Linked DNA regions of Homo sapiens. The protein of the gene in region 5 purifies or fractionates together with the protein of the main gene of each other region. This does not show direct contact. Each region holds a gene or a part of one and is shown on either strand. Other genes may lie near its edges. The genes, in order: KLC1, CPSF3, SUGP1, NRBP1, CTPS1, PUS7 and NMD3.

Region 1 (3,500 bases), on a different chromosome or scaffold from region 5:
AAGCGATTCTTCTGCCTCAGGCTCCCGAGTAGCTGGGATTACAGGTGCCTGCCACCACACCCAGCTAATTTTTGTATTTTTAGTAGAGACAGGGTCTTGCTATGTTGGTTGATCTTGAACTCCTGACCTCGGGTGATCTACCCGCCTCAGCCTCCCAGAGTGCTGGGATTACAGGCGTGAGCCACCGTGCCCAGCCTTGGTAGCTTATTTTTAAATTGCATTTGCTACAATTCTCCTGCCTCAGCCTCCCGAGTAGCTGGGACTACAGGTGCATGTCGCCAGGCCTGGCTAATTTTTTGTATTTTAGTAGAGATGGGGTTTCACTGTGTTGCCCAGGCTTGTCTTGAACTCCTGAGCTCAGGCAGTCTGCCCGCCTCAGCCTCCCAAAGTGCTAGGATTGCAGGTGTGAGCCACCGCACCTGGCCACTACTTTTTGGAACTCTATTTTGTACTTGCTGACTTTCACAAAAAGTTTGAGGCAGCTTACAATAGGATGTAATAGGATGAAAGAAGAAACAACAATATATTAATACGTGGCCAGAATTAGTGTGCTTCAGAGGTTGTAGAAGCCTTATTAACCTTTCTCACGTTTTTCAGGGGAAAGCCTTGCCAGGCAGTTACTACTACTCAATTGAGAAAGATGTGTGCTAAGTCTCAAAAGCAAGTACTTGTTCTCAGTCACATCAGTAGTGAGTAGCACGCTTAAACTGAGAGTTTCTGGTTCTGGGGTGTTTCTGTTTTACTCCAATCAAGAAAGATTCTTCGTTCCTCCATACTCAACAAAATGGAGGGAGACTGGGTACCAAGTTCAGACACAACAATATATTTACTTTTGTTTGTTGTTTTTTAAAATATTTTTTCAGTATACATGTAGCATATCATCTTCTTACAGCAAGACTGTGCAATAGATCATATACTTGCTTTGTAGATGGGAAGGCTGGGACTGCGTGAGGTCACGTAATGCACCCAAAGCCATGTAGCCATTAACTGGTAGAGCCCAAGCTCAGACACTAGAATTAATTCTGTCTGAAACCAAATGCAAGCTTGGTCCATTGTTCTAGACTGTTGCACTTATTCTGTGCTGGCCAGCTGGCATAGGCAGGACAACACTGTAGTGTGGGGACATTATCTTCCCAGTGGCCTAGATGGGAAGGTTAAGTTCAGAAGCTAGTTGGGTCTGATTCCAGAGTTCACCTTGCCAGTCCATTTATTGGTGGATTTCCTTCCAGTGTTTTTTCCCCATCCATAAGCTTGTGGTTTTTCTTTTTTCTTTTTTTTTTCTTTTGAGACGGAGTCTTGCTCTGTCACCCAGGCTTTAGTGCAGTGGCGCGATCTATGCTCACTGCAAGCTCCGCCTCCCGGGTTCACATCATTCTCCTGCCTTAGCGTCCCCAGCAGCTGGGACAACAGGCGCATGCTGCCATGCCCGGCTATTTTTTTTTGTATTTTTAGTAGAGACAGGGTTTCACTGTGTTAGCAAGGATGGTCTCGATCTTCTGACCTCGTGATCCGCCCGCCTCAGCCTCCCAAAGTGTTGGGATTACAGGCGTGAGCCACCACACCCATCTTTTTATTTATTTATTTTTTGAGACAGTCTCACTCTGTCGCCTAGGCTGGAGTGCAGTGGCACGATCTCTGCTCACTGCAAGCTCCACCTCCCAGGTTCACGCCATTCTCCTGCCTCAGCCTCCCGAGTAGCTGGGACTAAAGCCGCCTGCTACCACACCCGGCTAATTTTTTTGTATTTTTAGTAGCGATGGGGTTTCACCATGTTAGCCAGGATGGTCTCGATCTCCTGACCTCGTGATCTGCCCGCCTCAGCCTCCCAAAGTGCTGAGATTACAGGCATGAGCCACTGCACCCGGCCCTGTGGTTTTTCTTAAATAGTTTAAGCTTAACTTTTATTTCTGTAGTTGAAAATTACATTTAAAAAAGCTGTAGTGAGGCCGGGCACGATGGCTCATGCCTGTAACCCCAGCACTTTGGGAGGCCTAGGCGGGTGGATCATGAGGTCAGGAGTTTGAGACCACCCTGGCCAACATGGTGAAATCCCGTCTCTACTAAAAATACAAAAATTAGCCGGGCGTGGTGACAGATGCCTGTAATCCCAGCTACTCAGGAGGCTGAGGCAGAGAATTGCTTGAACCCGTGAGGCGGAGGTTGCAGTGAGCCAAGATGGCACCACTGCACTCCAACCTGTGCAACAGAGTCAGACTCTGTCTAAAAAAAAAGAAAAGAAAAGAAAAGAAAAGCTGTAGTGATCTACATCTGAAACACTTAATGTGTGTTTTTCCATTTAGGGATCAGAATAAATACAAAGATGCAGCTAACCTACTGAATGATGCCTTGGCTATTCGTGAGAAAACTTTGGGCAAAGATCATCCTGCGGTTTGTATATCCAGTTCTTTCATTCTTTTAATATTTTATTTTCCCCATATATTTCTTTTATCCAACTCATTTTACCATTAAACTCAACAGGGAAAGTTTAAGTGCTGCCTTTTCCCTAGATGGTGCAGGTAGGAGGTCTTCACTTACTCAGTGCTAGTGACAGGCCAGAGCACACTTAATTTGTTTATGACCCCACCTCAAATGGATCACCAACTGTATTGTTTGATTGTAAATCAAATTGCATGTCCTTCTAGAAATTTTTTTCTGAAAATTATATTGTCTTCATTAAAATCTGGTCAGATTTGCATATGAATCTGTTTTGGTTGGCTTTGTGGCTTCCAGGGAAATTTTTAAAAAGTCAGGAATACGTTGTTGATTTGTTTAATTTTAGTATTCTGCAGTGTTACTTTGTATAATCTATACTCTAGTGAATTGCGCTTTTCATTTTAACTGAAGTCATATTGTTCTATCCGACTAAGAATGCTTTACTGTATAGATTGAATATAAATGAATATGTGGTGTATAAATGTACTCTTATTTGGTTATCTTTTACCATTCTTAGTGGTTCTCTCTGTGTTGACAGGTGGCGGCGACTTTGAATAACCTTGCAGTCCTTTATGGTAAAAGAGGGAAGTACAAAGAAGCAGAGCCGTTGTGTAAAAGAGCTCTGGAAATCCGAGAAAAGGTACAAAAGAAGGGGGCAGTCGTTTTCTTTGAGATTTTTGTTTTGTGTGTGTGTGGTTTTTTTTTTTTTTTTGAGATGGAGTCTCGTTCTGTCACCGGGCTGGAGTGCGGTGGCGTGATCTCGGCTCACTGCAACCCCCACCTCCATGGTTCAGGTGATTCTTCTGCCTCGGCCTTCCAAGTAGCTGGGACTACAGGGACACACCACCACGTCCACCTAATTTTTGTATTTGTAGTAGAGATGGGGTTTCACCATGTTGGCCAGGATGTTCTCAATCTCTTGACCTCCTGATCCGCCCGCCTTGGCCTCCCAAAGTGCTGGGATTACAGGCTGAGCCACTGTGCCCGGCGCTGTTTTTTGTGTTTTTAAAAATTTTTCGGTTTTAGGTTTTGAGAAATAACCACTGTGATGTGTTTTTAACTGACTA
Region 2 (2,474 bases), on a different chromosome or scaffold from region 5:
ATTCTCCTGCCTCAGCCTCCCTAGTAGCTGGGATTACAGGTGTGCACCACCACAGCCAGCTAATTTTTGTATTTTTAGTAGAGTCAGGGTTTCACCATGTTGGCCAGGCTGGTCTTGAACTCCTAGCCTCAAGTGATCCACCTGCCTTGGCCTCCCAAAGTGTTGGGATTACAGGCAGGAGTCACCATGCCCAGCCTGTATTTACTTTTGAGACAAGCTTCTTATTTGCCTTGATACAGCTTATTAAGTTTATAAAACAGGGAAAATACACAGCTTTATTCAAGAATGATCTATTCAGCAGGCATCATGCTAGGTGGTTTATATACATTATCTTAACCTATAATTTTAGTAAGGATCCCCTTTTACATGTGAAGAAAACAAGACACAGAAGTTAAGTGATTTGCTTAAAGCCTCACAGCTAGTAAACAGCTGAGCCGGCATTCAAATCCAGGTATCTAGGTTTAAATGGCTCCCAAGCCCACTAGCTGTGCACTCCTACTTTAATTAAACTTGGTATTTATTGAGCATCTTCTGTGTGGCAGATTCCTTCTGTGCTAGTAGCTGGGGATAAAGAAGGCACTAAGACATTGCCTCTGTCATCGAGAGAAACAGTTTTGATGGTTAATTTCAACATCGTCCCCATTGGTACAGAGGTGTTAGGAAACAGCAGTCCACCAGCAGGCTGAATGCAGGTAAGAAAGGCAGGCAGTGACTCTAAACAACCCATGGACCATGGTCAGCCTAGGACAGTTAAGCACTGACAACACTGTATTAAGCGGGGGAAGTGGGGAGTGGGAATCAACTCCTTGCATCTTCAGGCAGTTACTGCTCATCATATGTGTGAATAAACTTAGGTGGGACCCTAGCACAAAGGAAAAGATTATATTTTATTTTATTTATTTATTTTGAGACGGAGTCTTGCTTGTTGCCCAGGCTGGAGTGCAGTGTCCCGATCTCGGCCCACTGCAACCTCTGCCTCCTGGTTTAAGCAATTCTCCTCCCTCAGCCTCCTGAGTAGTTGGGATTACAAGCACCCACCACCACACCTGGCTCATTTTTGTATTTTTAGTAGGGGTATTTTGGATGGGGTTTTGCCATGTTGGCCAGGCTGGTCTCGAACCCCTAACCTCAAGTGATCCACCTGCCTTGGCTTCCCAAAGTGCTGGGATTACAGGTGTGGGTCACCACACCCAGCCAAAAAAATTATATTTTAAACACAGAAATGTATTCAAAAGGATAGGAAAAAAGGTTCCATTTTCATGTGATCCACTGTTGGCTTCTCTGAAGAAACCAATACATCTACTCCTATCTAATCCTAAGTGTTTAAACAACTGGGGAAATAGCTGCATTTTTAAGGGTACGATTGGCTTTGAAGTTTAAGGACATGGGAACCTCCCATTCCTGGCCGAATGGAAGCTGTCTCATACTCCTGTTCCTCAGAGTTGAATAGTTCTGGTGTGTTTGTGGGAGGTGAGGGAGAGGGAGGGGAGGCGGGAGGAGTGGTGTCAGGAGGACAGGGAAGAAGGCCAGAGTGAAAGTCCAGTGGAAGGGCCGCAGCCTCCCGCAGACTGCCCTCCCCACGGCTCCTGAGGACCAGCCACAGCAATGTGAACTTCCATTCTGCACCCCGACTGCAGCACGTGGGAGAGCGGGGCCAGTCCAGGGCCACACGGGTTTTCTATTCTTGTAGAGCCCCAGGGAACAGGGCCGCCAACAGAACTATTGTAGTCAAGTCCCTGGTCAGCAACACCCACCTTCTACAATAGGGCTGTTTAACCGGGGGTCCCAGGATAGCCTGTGGGGAGGGGGTTGTCTAACCTCCTTGAAATCAAAGGTAAAACTGCATATATGTGTGTCCCCTGCCCCCGCCCCACAGCCTTACCTGACTGCCAAAGGGGTGAAGGATCTAAAAATGATTAAGATACTCAGACTTCAACGCTGGCAGACTTGAGCCCTCTGCAAAATGAGTTAAGAGAACCAGAGGCTCCAGGGGTGGGAACCAGTAAAATCTCTGGCCTTTTCAACGGCCATGGTAATCACTGTGCCTGCACTGTTGGCTGGTTTTGTATGAGGAATGCTCTTTAAAATCAAAATGACAACACAGAGAATACTGTTTTGAAGATGTATGACAACTTCTATAAACAAAGTCATCATTTAAAGTCTATCATTTTTTTTTAAAGCCACTAAACTGCTGCTTTAGTGGGCCGGGCACGGGGGTTCACACCTCTAATCCCAGCACTTTGGGAGACCAAGGCAGGTGGCTCATGAGGTCAGGAGTTCGTGACCAGCCTGGCCAATATGGTGAAACCCTGTCCCTACTAAAAATACAAAAATTAGCTGGGTGTGGTGGGCATGCGCCTATAGTCCCACTTGCTCGGGAGGTTGAGGCAGGAGAATCGCTTGAACCCGAGAGGTGGAGGTTGCAGTGAGCTGAGATTGTGCCACTGCACTCCAGCCTGGGCGACAGAGTGAGA
Region 3 (3,500 bases), on a different chromosome or scaffold from region 5:
GGTGGCGGGCACCTGTAGTCCCAGCTACTCAGGAGGCTGAGGCAGGAGAATGGTGTGAACCCAGGAGGCAGAGCTTATGGTGAGCTGAAATCGCACCACTGCACTCCAGCCTGGGCAACAGAGCGAGACTCTGTCTCAAAAAAAAAAAGAAAAAAGAAAAAAGAAAAAAAAGGCAGAATTGCAATAGGCCCAGCAATTCCACACCTAGGTATACCGACAAGAGAACTGAAAACGATTCAGATAGTCACAGCAGTATTATTCACAACAGCCAAGCAGTGTAAACAACCTCTGTGAATATAAGAGTTCATTCACAGATGAGTGGGTAAGCCAAATGTGGTATGTACACACAGTGGAAGATATGGCCACAGAAGGAATGAAATTCTGATACAAGCTACACTGTGGATGAACCTTGAAGACATTATGCTCAGTGAAAGAAGTCAGACCCTTCCAACACAGGGAGGGGGAGAGGGTCTGCCCACCTGACAGAGGCGAGGGAGAGGCATCCACGTCCCTCTGCACCAGTTCAGCAGGTGGGAGCTCTACCTTATCCTCTTCAGGCCCCCACCGGCTCTTCCGCTTCCTCTTCACGGTGGCTGCGGAGGCTGGCTTCCCGGGGGCAGCTGGAGCAGGGATGATAGTGGGCGCAGGCGTGGACGAGGCGGGGCAGGTGGTGGCTGGGGGTAAGGACCCTGACAGGGCCTCAGGAGGGGACTTGCGCTTCAGGCCGGGATCAGGTGCTGTGAAGCTGCCTGTGGAGCTGGCCTTGGCTTTCCGGAACTCCTCCAGCTTCTGTCGGTAGTACTTGTACCCTTGGCTATTGGGCTCATACAGAAAGCTGCAAAGGAGAGTTGGGGGGTGCAGTGTCAGCTGGGCCCGAGGCCCTGTCCCTGATTCTGGGCAGGAGCAGTTCTGGCCTTGTGTGCCCACGTTGGCCAGGGTCACTATATGGTCATGTCATAGTCACGGTCTCCACCATGACCTCCTGCCCTGCCAGGCCTCCTGGCAGTGACTGCTGGTTCTGGTGGCCCGATGCCCTTCCTTTGAACTGAGTCACTCCAATCCTCACCCTGTCTTTATCAGGCACCCATCACACTGTCATTGTTCACCCTGCTACAAAGGGAAAGGGCAGGGACCCTCAGACCCTTCCCCAGGGCCTGGGAAAAGTGAGACATTCACACCAAAAAATCTCAGATTGTGGGGAGACACCAGACACGAGACAGGGCAGAGGGACTTGTCTTGATCCCAAGGGCTTCTCAAATGCATCTTTGAGACAATGAACATCAGAACGGACCAAGGAGCTGATTTCTACCCCACGTGGGGGCAGGCAGCCTCAGGGAAGTGTGGCTTCCAGTGAGGCTGGGAGCACAGGTCTTCTCTGTCCCTACCCAGCCTGAGGAGCACAGCAGGTGGCGCTGGGTTCAGAGCCATGTTCCGCACCTACTGGCGCCTCTCGGACCGTACACATCCCCAGTCCACAGGACTGTCTTTGGGGTCTATGCCAAAAGGGAGAGTCTTGGCCCAGCTCCACATGGCAGAACACGGGAGAGAACTGAATGCATGTACAGCCCTGAAAGCATGTTACAGTGCTGAACAAGATGGGGCTGGACCTGCACTTGTGAATCTGGAGGGATGGTCATAGCACCAAGGCGTGCAACTAATGTGAATTAAAGGGTCAAGGATGCTGTGAAGTCCCTTTGTGTTACAGAGGCCGGGCGCGGTGGCTCACGCCTGTAATCCCAGCTCTTTGGGAGGCCGAGGCGGGCAGATCACCTGAGGTCAGGAGTTCGAGACCAGCCTGGCCGACATGGTGAAATCCCGTCTGTACTAAAAATAAAAAAATTAGCTGGGCGTGGTGGTACACGCCTGTAGTCCCAACTGCTCGGGAGGCTGAGGCAGGACAATCACGCGAACCTGGGAGGCGGAGGTTGCAGTGAGCCAAGACTGGGCCACTGCACTCCAGCCTGGACCAGAGTGAGACTCCATCTCAAAAAAATAAGATAAATAGTGAGCGAGCAGCAAGAGACCCCTTAGACAGTTTCTAGGTGAGCCTGTGTGTCTACGGCCCTGCTAACATCCGGTACCTCAAGAGGGTGGGACAGAAGGACAGGAGATGACAGCATCTTCTCTGTAATCCTGGGTCATGGTACACGTGTGACCCAGTGAGGAACATATGCAAAGATTAAGAGGTAAAAGCAACAACTGTTCAGGAGAGAAGGGAACAGTTGGTCAGATTTGGAAAAGACACTTGACAGCCGGGTGAGTTCAGACATGGATTTGAGAGGCCAAGCTGGGGAGGCTCACTTGCTAGGGCGAGCAGGCATCGGGGTGTGGGGGCCCCTTCCTGGTCTCAGCTGGTGCTTCACCCTGAGTGTCCTCCAGGATGGTCCAAGGATGCATCACAGTCCCCTGGAGGGTCTGCCCATCTCGGGGAGGGGGTTACAATGGCACTCAATGGTAGACCCCCATGAGGGGGAGAAAGTGGAGCCCCCCAACACCCCATCTAGAACACGGCTGGGTGCACCACCAAGGTTCCCCTCTGGTGGAACTAATCCCACCCTGAACCCAGGGATAACCACTGTTAAGGTGTTTCCTGCCAGTTTCAGCAAAGATTTATCTTAATAGAGCTGTGATCCTATACATATCCCAGTTTTAAAAAAAATTTCTGCCTCAAGCTGATGACATAAGCCTTTCCTATTAGAACAGTGGAAGCATGTTCACTGACTGGCCTTGCTTCAGTTCCCTCACACTGGGCTGCCAGCTCACATGGGTGCCTTCTGAAGGCGGCATACTCCACTGGGGAGATGTGCTGATGATTTAACCCACAGAGGTTGGACGCTGACTGTGTCACTGACTTTTCTTTTTTTTCTTCCTTTTTTTTTCTGAGACGGAGTCTTGCTCTGTCGCCCAGGCTGGAGTGCAGTGGCACAATCTCAGCTCACTGCAAGCTCCGCCTCCCGGGTTCAGGCAATTCTCCTGCTTCAGCCTCCTGACTAGCTGGGACTACAGACGCCCGCCACCACACCCGGCTAATTTTTTTTTTTTTTTGTATTTTTTAGTAGAGACGGGGTTTCACTGTGTTAGCCAGGATGGTCTCGATCTCCTGACCTCGTGATCCACCCCGCTCAGCCTCCCAAAGTGCTGGGATTACAGGCATGAGCCACCGCACCCGGCCTACTGACTTTTCATTACAGCTGATGCTCTATTGACATGATTTCCAGGATGTATCTCAGAAATGGGAGAATGACTAGTCCAAGGGATGGGCGTTTCCAGCTTTTCATTTTTTTTTTGTTTTGTTTTTCAAGATGGAGTTTCACTCTTGTTGCCCAGGCTGGAGTGCAGTGGTGCAATCTTGGCTCACCGCAACCTCCGCCTGCCGGGTTCAAGCCATTCTCCTGCCTCAGCCTCCCAAGTAGCTGAGATTGCAGGCATGCGCTAATTTTGTATTTTTAGTAGAGACGGGGTTTCTCCACGTTGGTCAGGCTGTTCTTGAACTCTCGACC
Region 4 (3,500 bases), on a different chromosome or scaffold from region 5:
TTTCCTGCTTTTAACCTTGAAGGCTAACAAGGTCACATACCTAATCTTTCACTTGAATACTCCACCTCAATGTTGAAGTAGAAACTTACTCCACACTATCCTCCTGACTTCCCACTAGTCTTCTTTTCTCTCCTGTTCCCTACTATACTTATCTAATGAGTTACAAACTGTTCTTGTTTGGACCTTCCTGCCCAGGCTCTGCTTACTATAGTCTATCAACTGATTCATAACCTTATGTCTTTTAAATCTTAGCTCATTATTTCAGGCCACCGTCCCTAACTAAAACTGTATAAATATAAAATCCCAAACAACTGGTTTAATTTAAATTGACTGATGTGCTTAAAAATATAAAAATGGCTGTCTGAGAGTATACAGCAATGGCCTGAAGTAACCATCAAATTAATTTACCTCCATGTAGACACATTCAAATTAACATACTTTTTTTTTTTTTTTGAGACAGTCTCGCTCTCTTGCCCCAGCTGGAGTGCAGTGGCCCAATCTCAGCTCACTGCAATCTCCGCCTCCCGGGTTCAAGCTTGCCTCAGCCTCCCGAGTAGGTGAGACTACAGGCACACACCACCATGCCCAGCTAATTTTTGTATTTTTAGTAGAGACAGGGTTTCACCATGTTGGCCAGGCTGGTCTCAAACTCCTGACCTCAAGTGATCCACCCGCCTCAGCCTCTCAAAGTGCTGGGATTACAGGTGTGAGCCACTGCACCCAGCCAACACACAACTTTTTTTTTTTTCTTTTTTTCTGAGACGGAGTCTACCTGTGTCGCCCAGGCTGGAGTGCAGTGGCGCGATCTCAGCTCACTGCAAGCTTTGCCTCCCGGGTTCATGCCATTCTCCTGCCTCAGCCTCCTGAGTAGCTGGGACTACAGGCTCCCGCCACCAAGCCTGGCTAATTTTTTTTGTATTTTTAGTAGAGACAGGGTTTCACCATGTTAGCCAGGATGGTCTCGATCCCCTGACCTCGTGATCCGCCCGCCTCGGCCTCCCAAAGTGCTGGGATTACAGGCGTGAGCCACCATGCCCGGCTTCCAACACACAACTTTTAACCCCAGCATCATCCATCTTAACCCCCTTACCTGTGTGTTTCTATGCAAAAACATGGTAGGCACCTCCTAAGAAAATGTTTATAGATTTTTCGTGTCCTTTCTGTTATGTTCCCTAGCTCTTAGGAGCATATACCCAGTGGGTACAAAGGAAGAAAAACCAGAAGACATTTGAAGGTCAGTTGAGGAGGGAGTGATCCTGAAGATCCTTACCCTCTGTAATGGGTCTTCTAGAAGCTGGATGGCACTGCTGATGGCTTCCTGTGGCACATATGAGGACTCTCCATTGCCCTGAATCTCCAGCACTGCCATCTTCAGTGAGGAAGAATAAAAAAAAAAGTAGACACCTAAGAACTTCAGTGCTCCCACAATCACTCCCTCCAAGCCAGCGCCTTACTTGTCTTCCCTCCATTCCCAATTCCATCTTCTCATCTGACCCCTTTCCCCCCTCCCCTCCAGTCCCCTCACCTCCAGTGCACACATGCCAAAGGAGTAGATGTCCACTGCTGTTGTCACATTAGTGACTTCTAGGGAAAACAGAGAAGGCTTTGGTTAATCAGAGGATTGGGGGCTAGGGTTGGCAGGAATGCCTTAGGAAAAAAAAAAAAGAAAAGAAAAATATTTTGTATGCTGGTAGAGAAGGCCTAGAAGTTTCAGTTATATTGCCTCTGTACCTCAAGTTATAAGGTGCAAAAGCAGGGGGATGAGGACAGGGCAGAGAAAGCAGGAAGGCTCACCTCCATACTCTGGTGCAAAGAAGTGTAGATTCTTCTGCTCTTCTCGACAAGTCTTCACATGATTGTTGATAGTGTCAGGAGCCACTGGGAGTAGGGGAGACACCCACAATCTGACCATCATCAATGAAGAATAGTCTCACTCCAGAGAGAGGCCCCAAAAGCCAAATTCTCTCCTGAAGTCTCCTTTCTGATGACCCTCAACAGGCACAAACATATTCCCTTTCCTGTCCTGAACTACAGACCACACATGGATGCCACCTACCTCCCCTTTCTTAGGCCTACTGCTTCTCATCTAATGTCCCTAAATCAGGAGCAACAAAAGCACCAGACTAAATTAACAGATACACAGGGGCTTCAGGCTGGTCTAGAAGCAATGAAGTTTAAGGAAAAATTTTCACTTGTACTGCGTTCACCTTCCCTAAATCCCAGGTACCTCTAATCCCTGCTCACATGAAAATATTTGGTTTTAGTTTTTTCATCCACCCTGCAAATAACATAAAAACACAGGCAGCCCTTCCTAATCTGGGACAATTGGAGACCTCAGGAACTTGGATAAATAAGGATAAGAAGTATTAACATACAGCTCAGGAGGTAGCCTCCTTCTTACCCACCTTTGCTGAGTGAAACTCAAAACAGCTCAGAATTGAGCTAATACCCTTGAATCTGTTCCACTTTTAATCCACCAAAACATTTTAGACTCCTGTTCTACCCCCTTATTCCTCAACACTGTCTGCCACAGAGCTGAACGAGGAACCAGGACCAGGCCCAATTTGGACTCACTCAGATCATAAACAATGACTACAAGTCACAGAGAATCTGGGAGCACAGTATGATCTGGGAACTAGCCTGATGATGAGGGAGAACATGAATCCAGGAGGTAAGTGGCCAGCCAGGCAGAATCCACAGGAAACAAGCAGGTTATGAAGGGGCAAGCAGGCGGAGGGCTGGCAGGGCAGAAGCTAAGCAGGCATAATTAGGCAGGGAAGATAGGGGAAGAGGGTTTGCTCCCACGACTGCATGCACTGGGCAGCCGCCAAGGGAGCAGAGGGAGCACAAACAGAGCCCCAAGTGGGGCAGAGGGAGCTCTCACCATTAGCAAAAATCCTATGAAAGACTGTTGGGAACAGAGCAGCCCGTAAGCGGGAGGGAGGAAAACAGAGAAAAGTTGTGAGCGATGGAGCAGCCAAGCCCCAGACAAATGGACACACAAATACCACACAGACACAGCACACAGAAATGTTGTACACTGCATACAATACACAGCAAACGAAAGCACTCACAGCAGGAACAGCCTGGAACCTCCTCTGGCAGGGTCTGGCCCCAGGACTCAAATCAAACCTCAAACCTATCTCTTGCCCTTTCCCAGCCTCTTATCAGTATCTCTGTATTAACCCCAATTTTCCCTTCAAAAAGGTGTAAGATTATATATCCTACCCCCTCTCCACTAATTAACTGGCCTCTCCTATTAATTACTCCTAGCAAGGTCCTTTCTCTTCTCACCAGCCCACACCTCAGAATTTTGCTCTGTTATCCCCCATTCCTTTCATCTTACCCCCATGGTTCCCAAATTCCCGAGGCTCCCCTGCCCAGAACCTCTCCCTCCCCTCACCAGAGCCAATCTTGATGAGTCCGTTGTGCTGGATGAAGATGGTGTCACAGGTCAGGTTCCCATGGATGATGGGGGGGTCACAGGAGTGCAGGTAGCT
Region 5 (3,500 bases):
ACCTGAGGCTCTGCAGAAATGACAAGTGCCACATTGTTGTATCTGTCCCTTCCTTCAAGATCTCCAAAATTTACAGCTACATCAAACAATAGGGTCTAAGAATTCAGACCCTCCCCTTCCCCGCCCCAGAACTGGTCAGACTGGCACCAGAATGTAGTAATCAGTATTGAGACAACTGCCCAGTGACCATGCTCCCCAAGCTGTCATCCCCAGGGCAGGACTGGGAGGTGCACTGCAACTTGGAGGAAGGGCTGCCCATTTGATACCCACAATGACCTCACTACTTTCTTTTCTCTCTCAACCTCTGGATTATATTCAAGACCTCACCACTTTCATTCCTGGCAGATAAAAATTTTCAGCCCTAAACTTCCATGATATTCTTGCAATCGCAGTGTGTTATCACCATGTTTTTAAAAACTAAAACTTTAAAGTACCACTTACGCTACAAGATCAGTCATGATTTATTGATGGAAACTTCAGTTCGGTGATTTCAGAGTCAGGGGAGCTGCTTCCACTCCTGTCACTATAGGTGTCCCTGTAGAATTCAGATGGTTTACGCATCATCTCCCACCAAAAACTCACTTTACGTCCCTGTTTTTGTAACCACGGTTCCTACAGGGACACTTGCCTGCACATGGCAGGAATCACAAAGACTGTTTGCTACATAATATATTTAACATGAAACTGCAGAAAGATTTCCTTCTTCTAGCTACAAAAGATATACATTCCATTTATACTTCAGTCACACACCCTACCACCAACTCTGAGTACTGGTTCTGGATAAAGGTGGCAATGGGACATAAACCTACCCATTGTGGCTTACTTCCCAGGAAAAACTAGTTCCCCTTAACATGGACCAGAGGGTCCTACGCCAAGTGTGATCTGGTCAGCACCACCAGAGCTCAGATGCTGCAGAAAGGGGGACCTGGCCAATATGCCAGGGAAACACCGTGAGAAAGCTCCGGGAAAGGAGAGGAAACTTTCACCCCAGGCGCCTGTGGCTTTTTTTTCTTATGACTGACTGTGACGTGTTGCTGTAATGAATCAGCGACCACCTAAAGGACTAGAGAAGACTAATGGATTACTGAAGCAAAGAGTGCGCCTACCTGGGTGAGAGCCTGCAGCCTTTCTGGAGGTAATGTGAGAGCCGCCCCACAGAGGCCAGGAGGAGGCCAAAGTATGGTGGGGAGGGCTTGATAGGCCTGGACAGGAACTCAGGGTGGTACTGAACCCCAACAAAAAAGGGATGATCTGAAATAGAGATTCAAAAGAAACAGCTTCATTGTGAAGGTTATGCACAAAGTGTAAAAGAACAAAATCTGCTTAAATGTTTGTTTCCATAGGCCCTAAAATAATTTGAAAATGACTTTCTCATTTGAATCTAGATAAAGGGAACCTCAAAGCATGAGTGATCTGATACCCTTTCTCAGCACGGTTTGTGCTGTCCCCTCCTGGCTGAAGGCCTCCTGTCCAGGGTCCCGCCCAAGACCCTGGCTCCCAGGATTTCTGTAGACTGAGTCTTGCGGTTCAGGAGAGGGCTGAAGTGGCTTTAGTACCAACTCCAAGCATTTTGGAGAAGGAGAAACTGCGGCCAGAAGTTAAATGGCTCCCCGAGGAAGGCCATGTACCAGAAAGAAGTTTCTAGAGTCCAGACCCCATGTTTATCAAGACCCCTTCCCTCATGAGACAGTGCTGCTTCCTAATTCTGTTAGGTCAGGAGCAACAAGATAACATTTTTATATTTTCCCATATGCCAAGAAAACTTTACTAAGTTTTCCATTAAATAAAACTGCCCGAATAATCACCTTCTAACTCCACAATTTCCATTCTCTCTCCTTCAACATCTTGGCCAACAAACTTCAAGCCTTGTTCTTCCAAACACTTTTTCCAGACTGGATTCACCTGTTGAGGCATGAAAAATAATTCTGCTGGTCTCTCAGCTCACTATCTTTCCAGAGTACCAGCAAGCTGGAATCCTCACCTCAAATCGGTGGCGGTGCCTCTCTTCCAAGTAGTCTGCGTCTCCATAGAGTTTCCCTGGCAAAACAAACGGGCTGTATGTAAAGAACTTTATCTCACAGGATGATGCGTTCACAAAGACATCCTCCTTCCTGCTTTACTTTTCATCATCCACACAGCCAGGTCTTTTGAGGGCTATTTCTATGAATCTGCTAAGGTCACCTGCTCTTAACAACACAGTTTAGACTAATTCTTGGGCTTTTGACTCTTTCTGACAACACTACAGAAAGCTGTAACAGAAACAAGACTCTCACCACCACCCTCAAACACATGATTGCAAAGTATGGGCACTTTGCTGCTAGAAAACTGCCTTGGAAAGCAAATCAGGATGTACGAAACGGCAAGGCCCTGGGAACGTGGCAGGATGGGAGGCATTTTAAGAGCTGCACAGATGACCTCTGATGATCATTCAGTTCCAATCATGGTCATCAAAGGTCATCAGCCCTCAGTGGCTGCATGTGAACAAGCTGGACATTTGCGAACGGGCTGCTCTACTGACTCATTTCACAGTTGCCTCGAGATCCCCAAATCCACAGAACATCAGAGTTGGTAAGAGAAAGATCCGATACTCAAGTGACTCCAGCTATGCTGCTACAGAACGCCCAGACAGACACAAGGGTGCCTCTGCTAATACAGTAAAGGCAGAATTTTCCCAGTAGACAAGAAGGAAATCTGTGTAATAGTCATTTTCTTAACTATTTTCCTCCGAAAACTACCCTAAACCTTCAGCATCTATTAGTACTTTATTAGAACAGAATCTACTTAGGCTGAATCATATGAAATTGCCATCTTTGTGTGACAAAAATTGCCAAACATCAGCAATTGATATGGCTGGTCTTAATAGGAAAGTAACCGATAAGGATGAATGTAACCTCACTGCCTCATTCTGTTGAGGCGCCCATGCCTAGGAGTCTGACTGCACTGCCAGTGTCCTTTCTAAGACCCACACTGCTTCTATGGCTATCACAGTGCATCCTAAAAGGGTATGAATAAGAGAGGAAAGAATGAACTTCAAAAGCAAGAACGAAACCAAAAAAAGCCAGCCTGCTCCTCGAAGCCACAGCATCACCCTAAGACACGCGTCCTGGGCACGCAGAGCCAAAGGCTGGGCCAGCGTGAGGCAGCTCTTACTCATGACTGAGTTCTTGGTCTGGAACAGGGTTCTCCTCTTGCCCAGCCTCATGGTTCCGCCCATCTGCCCTGGGTTGTGTTCTGGCATGTCTACGACCTGGAGATGTTCAGAAAACAGACACCAACTACAGAACTCTGCTTCCGCTAGAGAGAAACCTCCCTCGCTGAGTGGGTGGCAAAGGCTTGTAAGTAAGCTCTAATTCTCCAGGCTTTCCTTATGAGACATTTTGTCACAGAAGAAAATGCCTCCCAGTTGGCATTTGTAACCTCGGTTGGGTGGAGGCTCCGTCCTTCAGCCTGTCCTCCTGATCTGCAGACAGGACCACAGCAGCCCCTCCTCAGGCTAGTCC
Region 6 (3,500 bases), on a different chromosome or scaffold from region 5:
AGCTCTTTTCCATTCCTTTCTTTTCTACTCCATAAAGCACATTGGAAGGTGAGTGAGTGATTCCAATAACCTGGAGTCCAGTCCAACACAGTCAATTATTCGTAGCATTTGACTCAGATTATCCTCATACTTCACAGCTGATCACAACACATTTTGGTGTCACCACCATTTCTGATGAGGATCCCACATTCATTTAGTTCCTTACCTTTAGTCAAGGTCAAGATTCTTATCTGCACTCATTTTGATATATTTATTTGATTTATTTACATAACCAGTAGAAAGGAGATTTTAAAAATATTTATTACATTTGTTTCTAGAAATCATAGAAAATAAAAATTGATACAATTTTGATATACAACTTTAGAAAGGCATATTTATCCTTTCACACCAGAGAAGTTTATGCAATGCCAGACATGGAAATACCAAAGCCACTGGTGACAAAGGGTAAACGCTACTGATAGAAGAAAGCCTTGTCCATTTTTATAGTTTTCTTCTCTACCATTATTTATTTTTGAGCAAATACCAGTCCAGTGGAAAGAGTTCTGAACATAAAAGGCACCTAGAGTAAAAATTAGACCTTAACTAATAAAACAGCTGTACACGTTTACATCAAGAAAAAAAAACCCGGCCAGCACAGCTCATGCCTGTAATCCCAGGAGTTAGCCTCGGCAACATGGCCAAACCCCCGTCTCTACAAAAAAATACAAAAATCAGCTAGGCGTGGTGGTGCGCGCCTGTACTCCCAGCTACTTAGGAGGCTGAGGTGGGAGAGTCACTGGAGCCTGGGAGGTCGAGGCTGCAGTGCAAGATTGAGAATTGCAGGATTGCACTGCAATCCAGCCTGTGCTACAGAGTGAGATCCTGTCTCGAAAAAAAAAATAAAAAAATAAAATGGGCCTATCAATGCAACGTTCCTGCAAGGCATTGATAATATAAATGCAAAAGCCACCGCAACCAAAAAGTCTATAATGCTTGCCTGAATCTAGTACATAAGCAGGATAATGACAATCACTTTTTGTTTATAAATTTGTAGATGTCTTATTATTTCAGTCAGCATGAGTACTGTATTTATATTTGTGGGTGGCAGCTCTCAAATTATTTATCCATAGTCCAGATTTGTTTTGTTGCATTTGCTCTTAAAATGCATTGTTGTATACTCCATCACAGATGTGTCAAATACTCCTGCTGTCTTTTGAGAATGTAGCAAAACCTAAACCTGCTACTTTAAACCAAAGTCCTTTTTTTATTATTGTAAAGCTGACATTTTACTCTGATTTAAGCACCTGAAGTGTATTTTGACTAATTTATATTCTGAGCTAAAATTAAGAACCTCAGGATTTGTGTACATGTACAAATATTGCAAATTATTTCTTTAAGCTAATAAAAACTTAAAAATACAAATAATTTTTATTACAAAGATTTGAAATCCATATATGAGTCTGAACTAAGACAAAAATGCACAGGGAGCCAGGAAGCAAACACTTGTGTACGTTTTCTAATCTGTGGACAAGGTACTGCTCAGCGAAGCCAGGTTGTATTCAGCTGCGTCTGGTTCTTGATACTGGTATCCATTTTTAGCACTTCTCGAATGGCCATGGTGGCGTAAGTAGAAGGGGGTAGAGAAAAATCCATTTTCAGAGCCCTGTATTTGCCTTCTGCAAGGCAAGAAAGAAAACAGTCAGAAAATGAAGGCAGCTGCAGACAGACCAGCGAGAGTCACATAATCTCTAAGCAAATACAAAGAACTGTGCTGCTTTCCTTAGACTCCACTTCCTAGGGGGCCTTGGAGAATGAGACCATGGAAGTAAGAGATCTGTGAGTGTGAACCTGCTGAATGGTTACAGAAATTCTGCCCAGGAACTTTCACAAAAAGGCAGATGACAGAAGAACACAAAAGAGAAACGCATGTAAAGTTAAAGAAATAATAATAAATTACGGCCTGGGAAAAAACAGAACAAGAATTTGATGATGAGAATGCCAATTTAATTAATTAATTAATTTTTTTTTGAGACAGAGTCTTGTTATGTTGCCCAGACTGGAGTGCAGTGGTGTAATCTCAGCTCACTGCAGCCTCCACCTCCCGGGTTGAAGCGATTCTCCTGCCTCAGCCTCCTGAGTAGCTGGGATTACAGGTGCCCACCACCACGCCCGCCTAATTTTTTTTTTTGTATTTTCAGTAGAGACGGGGTTTTGTCATGTTGGCCAGGCTGGTCTGGAACTCCTGACCTCAAGTGATCCACTTGTCTCGGTCTCCCAAACTGCTGGGATTACAGGTGTGAGCCACCACGCCCAGCCACCAATTTTTTTTTTTTTTTTTTTGAGATGGAGTCTCGTTTTGTCACCCAGGCTGGAGTGCAGTGGCGTGATCTTGGCTCACTACAAGCTCCGCCTTCTGTGTTCACACCATTCTCCTGCCTCAGCCTCTCCAAGTAGCTGGGACTACAGGAACCCGCCACCACACCCGGCTAATTTTTTGTATTTTTAGTAGAGACGGGGTTTCACCGTGGTCTCGATCTCCTGACCTCGTGATCCGCCCGCCTCGGCCTCCCAAAGTGCTGGGATTACAAGCGTGAGCCACCGCACCTGCCCAACCAATTTAATTTTTTAGACTCTTCCTGAATTTTCACTCACCTTTGGTAAGTCTCTGTGGGGGATGGGGAGAAATACTCCATCACCTAATATCACAACCATCTATAACATGCACTTATTTTCAGGAGGATTTACTGGTTTTAATCACTAACTTTCAGCCATAATTGTGAAAGTAAGGTCATAAAACACAACAATGAAATCATGGGTGGTGGTAGTGCTTGTAAGAGCAGTTTTCAAAAAAAAATTATGTTTTTGTTTAACAAAACATTTCAAAGTCAACACAGAGCTGATGACTGAGTAAACTTACCAGAAGCAAAAACTGGTGGTGTCTTCCCTTCTAGGTTGTCCACATCTGTGTTGAAAAGTGGAATTTTGGGATCATCATATGCAACGACTTCCCTTCAAAACATATGAATAAAGATAAGTGTGAATGTGAACTTTCATAAAAGGTACTAAGCCACTCATCATCATTTATTTAGCAAGAAAAACAAGTAAGTTTACTGTAAATAATTATAGTTAGGAATCTTGAATAATATAGCAGGGCCAGATTTTATACCTAAGTTTTGCTTATATATATAATTTTTTTTTTTTTTTGAGATGGAGTCTCAACTCTGTCACCTAGGCTGGAGTGCAGTGGTGTGATCTTGGCTCACTGCAACCTCTGCCTCCTGGGTTCAATCAATTCTCCTGCCTCAGTCTCACAAGTAGCTGGGACTATAGGTGTCTGCCACCATGCCTGGCTAATTTTTGTATTTTTAGTAGAGATGGGGTTTCACTATGTTGGCCAGGGAGGTCTCAAACTCCTGACCTCAGGTGATCCACCCGCCACAGTCTCCCCAACTGCTGGGATTATAACGTGAGCCACTGTGCCTGAATATAATAGGCTCAATCCAATTATATTCTATTAGTTA
Region 7 (3,500 bases), on a different chromosome or scaffold from region 5:
CCATTTCAAACACACGAAAAAGGGCAAGAATGGCTTTATTTTCATGCTTTAAAATATCTTGACACGGAAGATGTAAACACAGACCACCAATGAGAACTTGCTTTGGTCAATCTTACCTTTGAAGAACTAGGACAAGCCATTCCTACCAGGCCACCACCAAAGACAGGATATGGCTTTTAGATCCACAATTTTAACAAAATATGCAGACAGAAAAGAAGCCACTATAGAAAATTTAGGACTTTATCCATAATTTCAAAATTGGAAAGTCCAATATTAAAAAAAAGAAAAATGTTCCACACAGTGGCACTTGCTCAATCTCTTTATTTAGTGGCACACATGGAATGAATGAATTAGCTCTTACTTGCGGCATACTTAACAAGTCTGATCTTGCTTATAGAAATTGGATCTTAATACTTCATTCTCAGAATACTTCAAAACGTAAGCCACAGTTTTTCTTTCAAGGATGTGGGAAGCATTCCTCATTCAAATCTGATTAATGGTTTTATAAAGTATGTACCTCATTTTTATTAGCCATTATCTTCATGCTGGATTCTAATATTCTTTTTAATGGTGATCTGTTCAATGACAGAAACTTATAGAGAGAAAATTCCTTCTCAATTTATAAACAAAAATTTTAAAAGCAGCATTTTTGATGTGGTAGGAAGATATTTATGACAAAAGCAGCTACTGCCCTAAACTGGCAAAAACAACAAAAGAACAAATTGTTATTTAACCTTTAAATAACGAGTCTCTATTTGCTATAAATCTACAAATATTTTAAATATATTTCCTCCTACTGCAATAAAAATTAAGATAACTCTCTGTTTAACGGCTTTTGAAGAGTTAATTTTATAAGGAAATAAAAAAGATTGACTTGCCTCCTGAATGTCCAGTGATAAACTGAACCCTAATTTCCCTACCTCAACAACATAAAAATGATGTAAAGTGGATCAAAGTATGTAACAAGTTAATATTAAAAATGCTTCTTCATATGGTCTTTCACTAAAATAATCAACGTAAAAATAATGTAAAAATGTGTTTTTGCTTGAAGATTTAGTGAACGTTCAAGGAATCACAATTTTTGAGCTTTTACATCCAGAGTACTATACTATGTGAAAATACTACAGTGCCTCATATAAAAAAGCACAGTGATAAAATTCCAAATGTAAAATTGCCAAAAATCAATAACAACTACATTCTCCATAATCTTTCCTTATCTAAAACCTCAAAGCTATCCATCTGTTTTAGTGGTTTGAGTGAGCACTGAAAACAAACATGTTTATTCAGGTTTAAAACTAAATTTCTCCTCTTGAAATCTGGAGGCAAAGATAGTAGAGACACTTAAGGTAACTCTGTCCAACTTCTTAAGCCCATGTATGGAAACAGTCTACAACATCTCATTATGTCAGCATTGATGCACCTTCTTCACCAGTGGCATCTTGGGAAATATGAAGGTCTTCAAGCATCTCAGCCAGACTAATTCGAGGTGCTCCTTCATCATCGGTGTCACTTTCCACAGGGATGGCTGAATCTAAAAAAATACAAAGAGAATAAAATAAATACAAAGTATTTATATGTATACAAAGTATTAAATATATTTGAAAATATACAAATATCTACCTTATCATTATTATTATGTAACTACATTGTATCAGAAGCTCTTGTCTCTTACAGCAGTCATTCAAATTACATTCACTGAACAAATGAACTGAGTAACTGTAAGAATATACTTCCACCACTATAGGAGTGAGCAACTTAAGGGATCAAGCTAGAATGCAAATAATACTAACTGTAATATACAAAACAGTATTTTGTTAAGTTTTATTTATTGTTTTGCAAGTTTTTTTGTAGAAGTGTGACTAGAGTAGTTGAAAAAACAATTAAAGACATTTATGAGAATCAAAGCTTAAGATACCAAAATATTCATACTAGGAACTATACTTATATACAGAACAAATGACTTAAACACTCCTAGAACACCAACCTCTGTAAATGTTGACATTTTTTCGAATTGCCTCATCTTCTTCAAGATCTTCAAGAAAATCTTGGTATTGCCTTTAAATAAACATTTAAATATTTCATCACCAAAAATATAGTTATATTTTCTTCATTTAAGGACTTTCATTTTAAGGACTATGTAGACATACTGCTGTTTCCAACTCACATTTCATGAAACAATTTTATATAAACTCTCAGTTTTTTTAGACATCGGTGTCTTCACCATCATTAAAGCCACTTTTTGAATCATCCAATAAACTGTTTTAGAACACTGTCTTCATTTCTGCTTAAATTATTTGAGGAATAACACACTTGGCATCAATGAGCTGTTTCCTTTTTATCTCAAGCCATAAGTACTCATCTGCTATTTGTGATATTCATAATGTAATTATTTATTATAAAGTCATGTGCCACATATTCTATGATGCTCACACAACAAAATCACCTAATGATGCATTTCTCAGAAGGTATGCCCATTGTTAAGCAAAGTATGATTATATTTTAACTTTTCAAATGAATTGTTTACATTAACACTACAATTATTAGGTCATAAACCAGGAAATAATTACTAAATCTGTGTTAAATGTCTTTACATCATCTTATACTGATTCCATTAATACCTTGATAAGAATCCAAGATTATAATTGAGTGCAAGGATCAATTGTGTGATGCCTATTTCTTTACAACATAAAAAGTATTTATCATAAATATTTCCTTTGAGACAACATAAGAGATTTAAAGAAAAGCGAGACCTTTCATCATCTGTATCCATGTTTTCTCTCTCTCTTGCAAGCTCTTTCAATTTCCAGTTTCTACGACGCTGACGTTTGGTCCGGTCATAGCTCTTCTTGATTAATACCTGCAAGATAAATATTTGTAAAGTTACAAAGAATGGGAACTATACAGTGAGGCCACAAAATTCAATAAAGCTAAAAAATGACCAAACTAATGACACTGGTTACACCTCAGGAGAAAGGAGAAGGGATGGAGAGACAGTGTCAAGAGGACTTTTAAAATTTTTCTCCATGTATTTAACTTTTTATGAGAATGGATTCAAGCATTATTTGTACAATTGTTAAAATTTGCTAAAATTTTTCAGTGACTGAATACTGTTTTTCTTAATAACAAAAACTGTAGTTTTCTTTTAACTCAAACTTCAGTTTTCAGCTACCATTCATATAAATCATTCTGAATATCACAAGTAGATACTTTTTTTCTCTTATACCCACCAATAAGCATTTACAGAACTATATATAACTTTCACAACAATGTATCTTAGAACGCTTGTTTAATAAATTATAGAATGAAAATAATTTTACAAAATACAAAATATTGTAAGATTGCCATGATCTCCTCTTATGACCTTGTTAGAAATACCTATTTAGACTTACACTCCAACCACGCTGTTAATTCCTAATTTATCAACTAATAAAAGTACAACTGGGCAGGTGGTCGGAGTCCTTGATTTGTCATGGCTCTACTTTTTTTGCTCACTGCTAAAG

The links.
Region 1: the proteins of CTPS1 (region 5) and KLC1 fractionate together in Homo sapiens (co-fractionation; one large-scale study listed by BioGRID). This does not show direct contact.
Region 2: the proteins of CTPS1 (region 5) and CPSF3 fractionate together in Homo sapiens (co-fractionation; one large-scale study listed by BioGRID). This does not show direct contact.
Region 3: the proteins of CTPS1 (region 5) and SUGP1 purify together in Homo sapiens (affinity purification with mass spectrometry; one large-scale study listed by BioGRID and IntAct). This does not show direct contact.
Region 4: the proteins of CTPS1 (region 5) and NRBP1 fractionate together in Homo sapiens (co-fractionation; one large-scale study listed by BioGRID). This does not show direct contact.
Region 6: the proteins of CTPS1 (region 5) and PUS7 fractionate together in Homo sapiens (co-fractionation; one large-scale study listed by BioGRID). This does not show direct contact.
Region 7: the proteins of CTPS1 (region 5) and NMD3 fractionate together in Homo sapiens (co-fractionation; one large-scale study listed by BioGRID). This does not show direct contact.

The regions. Positions count from the first base shown.
Region 1 is NC_000014.9:103,667,211-103,670,710, forward strand, and holds part of KLC1 (kinesin light chain 1), read left to right. Parts: intron 1-2,300; coding exon 2,301-2,388; intron 2,389-2,971; coding exon 2,972-3,073; intron 3,074-3,500. UniProt on the Homo sapiens protein: Kinesin is a microtubule-associated force-producing protein that may play a role in organelle transport. The light chain may function in coupling of cargo to the heavy chain or in the modulation of its ATPase activity.
Region 2 is NC_000002.12:9,468,654-9,471,127, reverse strand, and holds part of CPSF3 (cleavage and polyadenylation specificity factor subunit 3), read right to left. Parts: intron 1-2,474. UniProt on the Homo sapiens protein: Component of the cleavage and polyadenylation specificity factor (CPSF) complex that plays a key role in pre-mRNA 3'-end formation, recognizing the AAUAAA signal sequence and interacting with poly(A) polymerase and other factors to bring about cleavage and poly(A) addition.
Region 3 is NC_000019.10:19,296,510-19,300,009, forward strand, and holds part of SUGP1 (SURP and G-patch domain-containing protein 1), read right to left. Parts: intron 836-3,500; coding exon 480-835; intron 1-479.
Region 4 is NC_000002.12:27,435,131-27,438,630, reverse strand, and holds part of NRBP1 (nuclear receptor-binding protein), read right to left. Parts: intron 3,499-3,500; coding exon 3,404-3,498; intron 2,909-3,403; coding exon of another isoform or gene 2,885-2,908; intron 1,879-2,884; coding exon 1,795-1,878; intron 1,585-1,794; coding exon 1,526-1,584; intron 1,370-1,525; coding exon 1,271-1,369; intron 1-1,270. UniProt on the Homo sapiens protein: Required for embryonic development. Plays a role in intestinal epithelial cell fate and proliferation, thereby involved in the architectural development of the intestine potentially via the regulation of Wnt-responsive genes.
Region 5 is NC_000001.11:41,007,196-41,010,695, reverse strand, and holds part of CTPS1 (CTP synthase 1), read right to left. Parts: intron 3,248-3,500; coding exon 3,151-3,247; intron 2,038-3,150; coding exon 1,982-2,037; exon of another isoform or gene 1,903-1,981; coding exon 1,806-1,902; exon of another isoform or gene 1,801-1,805; intron 1,252-1,800; coding exon 1,107-1,251; intron 536-1,106; coding exon 451-535; 3' UTR 442-450; exon of another isoform or gene 438-441; intron 1-437. UniProt on the Homo sapiens protein: This enzyme is involved in the de novo synthesis of CTP, a precursor of DNA, RNA and phospholipids. Catalyzes the ATP-dependent amination of UTP to CTP with either L-glutamine or ammonia as a source of nitrogen.
Region 6 is NC_000007.14:105,456,272-105,459,771, forward strand, and holds the end of PUS7 (pseudouridylate synthase 7 homolog), read right to left. Parts: intron 2,989-3,500; coding exon 2,897-2,988; intron 1,656-2,896; coding exon 1,519-1,655; 3' UTR 232-1,518; downstream 1-231. UniProt on the Homo sapiens protein: Pseudouridylate synthase that catalyzes pseudouridylation of RNAs.
Region 7 is NC_000003.12:161,248,811-161,252,310, reverse strand, and holds the end of NMD3 (60S ribosomal export protein NMD3), read right to left. Parts: intron 2,858-3,500; coding exon 2,751-2,857; intron 2,056-2,750; coding exon 1,985-2,055; intron 1,532-1,984; coding exon 1,401-1,531; 3' UTR 4-1,400; downstream 1-3. UniProt on the Homo sapiens protein: Acts as an adapter for the XPO1/CRM1-mediated export of the 60S ribosomal subunit.